Linked DNA regions of Homo sapiens: region 1 is linked to region 2. The links come from fine-mapping of genetic effects on gene expression. Tissue or cell type: whole blood. Region 2 holds a variant in brackets; the other region holds the start of a gene. All regions are shown on one strand. Distances are from middle to middle.

Region 1 (2,500 bases), 45 kb before region 2:
GGGTTAAGGGGCGAGATGGGAGTGGAGGAAGGCCCAACTCATCTGCCAGCCTCCAGCCCTCACGCAGGGAGGGCATGGATTGGCCTCTCCGGAGCTCAGGGCAGAAAGGCGAGGGGGAAGCCCTGCTGGTGGGGGCCACAGGATAGCTGGGCAGCGACACCATCTGTGAGGAACTGATGTCGATTTCTCTCTTCTTTCCTATGGAGGGCAGCCAGTGGAAAGGCTTTTTCCTCTTCAACCGAGGGATGGACTTCAATTCCTTCACTGGATCCATCCTTCCTGGCTCATTGAGAAACTCTGGTGGACGGCTGAGTTGGATGAGGTAGTTCAGGTTGAGGTTAGAGCACTGCACTTGGGCGAAGCCAGTGCTGTGAGGCCAGGGGATAGGGCACAGCTTGAACGTCCCAGCGGGGCAGACAGGGTGCAGCTTGTCCACATCCCCAGAGGCCTGCTCTGCCCTCAGCAGGGCCTGGAAGTCGGCAAGCAGGCCACGGTAGACGTTGGGACTAGTAAGGAAGAGTGTGCAGTCCCTGGCGAGGCTGGCGGCCAACCGGGTGAGGGTGGCTGATTCAGTGAAGACCCCCCTGGGAGTCGACATGGTCACCAGCAGGTGCAGGTAGCGCAAGAAGAGCTGCTCGCTGCTCAGCAGCACGTAGGCCTCGAGCCGCTTCCGCAGCTTCTGGTTGTTTTTGTGGCTCAGACTAAGTTCGGCGGGCGGCTCCCGCCAGCTGCACTTCAGCTCGTCCAGGATGACCTTGATGAGACGTAGTCGGGCCTCAGGAGGCACTCCCGCTGCTATCCCGCTGCCGGCCAGCAGCTTGGCCACCTGGCTGCACAGCGACGCCACCGTCAGCTTCGCCAGAGGGAAGGACTGCAGAATCCGGCCCTCCTGCGGGGGGCGCTTCTGAGGCTCTGGGGACGTCGTCCTAGTGGGGAAGAGCGACAGCGGACGCAGCAGCCGGTGGTAAAACCGCTGGAGCTCAGGCTCGGGCTTCGGGGGCTCCATCATAGAGCCGGCGGCCGCCACCGTCCAGGAACAGAAAGCCGAGGGGTTACTAAGGCAACCAGGAGCCCGACGGCCCGAGTGCGCCTGCGCGGCCGCCACCCGGTGGCTGACGAAGCAGGGCCTTGCGTGCGCACGCACTAGGAGGAGGAGTTAAGGGTGGCTTTAGAGGCTCAGTCCCCGCGACGCCGCGCTGGTTGGTGCTCCTGCGCCGGAGGAGTTCTGCGTCTCGGGGTGGTGACTGGGTCCAGAATGGCTTCGGATTCGGGGAACCAGGGGACCCTCTGCACGGTGAGGGTCGAGGCTTCGTGTGGAGCCTCGCCGGGCAGAGAGCCTCGGCCCCTGGGATGATCGTTACCTTGGGAAGAGGAGAAGGAGTGGGCACTTGGGTTGGGGCCTGGGGCCATGGGATGAAACTAGGGTGCGAGGGTAGCAGGGGCCCTGCGTGAGTGTTGGGGGGTGACTCCCATGGTCCTGGAATGGTCATGAGAGATCATGAAGAAGGTGCTTGAAGAGGGGTTAAGTGGGGCTTGTTCCCAGACCCTTGCGGTGGTCATAGGGTAGGTGGTGAAACAAAGTCATACCAAGGCACTTCCCCAGCGATCATCGGTTGGTCCCTGCCGCCCTTGCAGTTGGAGTTCGCGGTGCAGATGACCTGTCAGAGCTGTGTGGACGCGGTGCGCAAATCCCTGCAAGGGGTGGCAGGTAAGAACAGGGTAAACTTTTCTGCAGACAGTCCAGAAGCCTCTGGGAGGGACCAGGCGAATCTATTAGGCGAACCCTACTCCCATTTTACAGATGCAGAAAGTGAACCCCAGAGAGTGAAAGGCATGTTCTCAGAGTTACACACAGACCTGGAGGCAGAGCCTAGAGTACAGCTGTCCAGCTTGCCCTGACAGATTCTAACTGCCTGTCTTGTTGTCCTGAACCTCAGGTGCCCCAGAGACTGAGGAGCTAGGCTGAGGGAGTTCCTGGGAAAACAGGCAGTTTTTGCTTGGGAAACAACATAATCTTGACAAAGCAAACAGCAGCTCAGGCCCTATACCATCCTGGGTAGCTTTCTATACCACTGGGTGTGGTGGCTCATGCCTGTAATCCCAGCACTTTGGGAGGCCGAGGTGGGTGGATCACCAGGTCAGGAGATCGAGACCATCCTGGCTAACACAGTTAAATCCTGTCTCTACTAAAAAATACAAAAAATTAGCCGGGCGTGGTGGTGGGCGCCTGTAGTCCCAGCTACTTGGGAGGCAGAGGCAGGAGAATGGCGTGAACCCGGGAGGCGGAGCTTGCAGTTAGCCGAGATCGCGCCACTGCACTCTAGCCTGGGCAACAGAGTGAGACTCCGTCTCAAAAAAATAATAATAATAAATAAAAGGCCAGCTGGTCTGGAGGTGACCTGGCACAATGAGAAAGATCTGGAAAGGTAGAGCCACCAGCATGGCTCTGGGAACTGGCTTCCTTTGATTCTGTTAAGTGTTTATCCAGGCCAGGCTCAGT
Region 2 (2,500 bases):
AGCCTCCTGAGTAGCTGGGATTACAGGGGCCTGCCACCACATTGGGCTAATTTTTGTATTTTTAGTGGAGATGGCGTTCACCATGTTGGCTAGGCTGGTCTTGAACTCCTGACCTCAGGTGATCCGCCCGCCTCGGCCTCCCAAAGTGCTGGGATTACAGGCGTGGGCCACCGCACCTGGCCCTCGTGTTGGGTTTTAAAACCCACTCTTTTTTTTCCCCCCCAAACTCTGACTTCACCTTTCTCTTTATGAAACCGTTCTCTTTTTGGGGCGGGGGTGGTGGTGAAGAAGCTGCTTTGGATGGTGGTGTGTGGTACTTGTGTCATCTTCACTCCTGATGATCCCTTTCCTCATAAACTCTGCACTGCTTTTAGCCTGTTTTGTTCGTGTTATAAGTTCTTCCATCCAGTCCCTGCACTCCACCTTTTAACCCTTTTCAAAAGCTGCTTCGCAAAGGGTCTTGACTAAAGTTGCTTGCTTAATGAATATGAAGCAGCCTAAGGATGAGAGAAAACGAGGCAGCAGCTGGACCCTCTGGAGAATGTTACTTTGTATTTTGTTTACAGCTGGTTGTGACTAAGCTCTGTCCTCTAAAGTCGGTTCTAGGGGATTAAAACAGCTCTGGCTGATGGCGCCCAATAAAATAAAACAAAAAAACCTTTGCTGCTCCAGTTTTTTCTCAGGGTGGGGTCGGGGTATACTTTAAATCTCCATGGTCTCAGAAAGGTTTCTTCATCGCGGACCCTGGGAGGCTGGTTCCCAGAGGGAACTTGTCCTCAGCGTCTCCTGGACAGTGCAGCCTCCTGCCGGGCCTACTTCTGGAAGGCCATTACAGAGGTCCTTTCACCACCTGTGAGAGGTTTGATTTTGGGGGAGCTCCGGGACTCTCAAGGCTACAGTGTGGACTGCTGGCCCAAGGAGAAGGTTGGTTTCCTGAAGTGGTGGGTGGTGGGTTGGG[G/A]GGGGTCTTCGTTGTTTTTCTTCCCTGGCATGTGCCTGCATAAGCTATTTCCACAGCGTCCTGGCCGCGAGGGGGGGTGGTGCTTGGGAGGTTAGAGGGAGACACCTAGAGTGAACGGCAAAATGGAGCGCGGAATACTGTCTGGCTGTGCACGTGGAGGTGGCGAAATGTGGAAGCTTAACGAAGTTGGCGCCATGAAGCTAAAGACTGCTACCCCGGGGCTCTAGCTCGCTCCGCCTAATGGCGGGCCGCACCCCGCCGGCGAAGCCCACGTTTGTAGGTCCGCCCTCACGCTGATCTCTTGCCCAATCAGCGAGTTCGGCTTCGCGAGGTTGGTGCCCATTGGCTTTCGCATAAAAGCTCCGAGGTTACAGACGTTTCCACCTCTTGCCGGCCTCTTAGGTAATTGGCGTCCGTGGTAACCAATCAGGAAGAGGATCTGAGGGAACGCCGGCCTTTTACTTTCTTGAGTGGCCAATCCGGTTGTAGGCTCACCTCCCCCTTCTACTCAGAGCACTGCTGCGGCCGCCGCCATTTTAGCGTTTTGTCAGAAGCGTCCGCGCCGCGAGGAGGAGGCCCTGCTGGTTTCTGTGCGGGTGAGACTCCGAGCCTTTCCACTGCCTTTCTTGTACTGTGTTAAATCTTCTCTCACTCCCTTGGGCTTCGGGGGTGTCCTGGTAGGTCCGCAGTCTCCACACCCGTCACTGAGAGCCGACCTCGGTCCTCGGCATTGCGCGGTAAGCCGGGAGCAGCCCTTCCCCCACCGCCCCCTGAGAATACCTTGCTTTTTTTCGCCCACCCTGTCCCGCGCCCGACATGGCTGCTCTTGGAGCCTCGAGATTTCCACTGGGATAACCCCCTTTCCCTTATATCTGACAGTTACATTCTCGTTTCGGGAATTTCTCGGGCCGTGAGACATCGTCTGGTTAATGAATCTGAAGCTCTTTTCCGCGGCCGCGCATTTCAGTGTTCGGCAGGAGCTAGGACGGTGCCCCGAGAGAGGCGTTCACCACTCCAGTATTTCCTTTATCTCCCACTCCTCGCTGTCTGATCCGAGTCGCGCGTTCATTACTTCCAAAGGAAACTCAAATGTAGCTATTACAAGGCCCATTTTCCCGGAAATGATGGCTGCTTTGGTTCCTACGTGAGGAAAAGCCTGTTGATAATTTCAGGCAGGCAGTCAGCAAGCCTAGTAGACTTTTGTTTTCTGTTGTCCTCCTAGTGGATAGAAAAGCCTAGTACCCCCATTTCTTCATATGCTGTCTTTCATGCCCATTTCTGTTGGAAGGTATCGGTTCTTACCAAACCCTTTGTCTACTAAGGACCTCCCTATTGCAGACGTCTTCTTATTCTTACAGGTTCATGGCGGCTACTATAGCAGGCCTTAGTTCACTCCCACTTCCATTTGATTATTGTGTGGAGGTGTGTGTGCAGGCGTGTGAGAGAGAAAACTGGAAATATACATTAGAGTGAAAGTCGTTGTCTTTTGTGAACGGATGTGGGCCTGAGGTCTTTTGTCAGATGTCTTGTTTTTCTCTCCCA

The links. PIP is the estimated chance that this variant, and not a neighbour inherited with it, causes the effect.
Region 1: it holds the start of CCS, and the variant in region 2 is fine-mapped to the expression of CCS in whole blood (TOPMed, PIP above 0.99).

The regions. Positions count from the first base shown.
Region 1 is chr11:66,592,007-66,594,506 of GRCh38, forward strand. CCS (copper chaperone for superoxide dismutase) reads left to right here and starts at 1,179. Exons shown (of 8, transcript NM_005125.2): 1 at 1,179-1,294; 2 at 1,636-1,708. The coding sequence starts at 1,256. CCDC87 (coiled-coil domain containing 87) reads right to left here and starts at 1,057. Exons shown (of 1, transcript NM_018219.3): 1 at 1-1,057. The coding sequence starts at 1,009. RefSeq lists enhancers at 1-432, 433-1,021, 584-643, 814-923, 954-1,043.
Region 2 is chr11:66,637,199-66,639,698 of GRCh38, forward strand. All of the region lies in intron 1 of RBM14-RBM4 (RBM14-RBM4 readthrough), which reads left to right. It overlaps RBM4 (RNA binding motif protein 4), which reads left to right and starts at 1,505. Exons shown (of 4, transcript NM_002896.4): 1 at 1,505-1,554. RefSeq lists enhancers at 956-1,669, 1,434-1,803, 1,670-2,381. The variant G/A (reference allele first, on the strand shown) is at 959.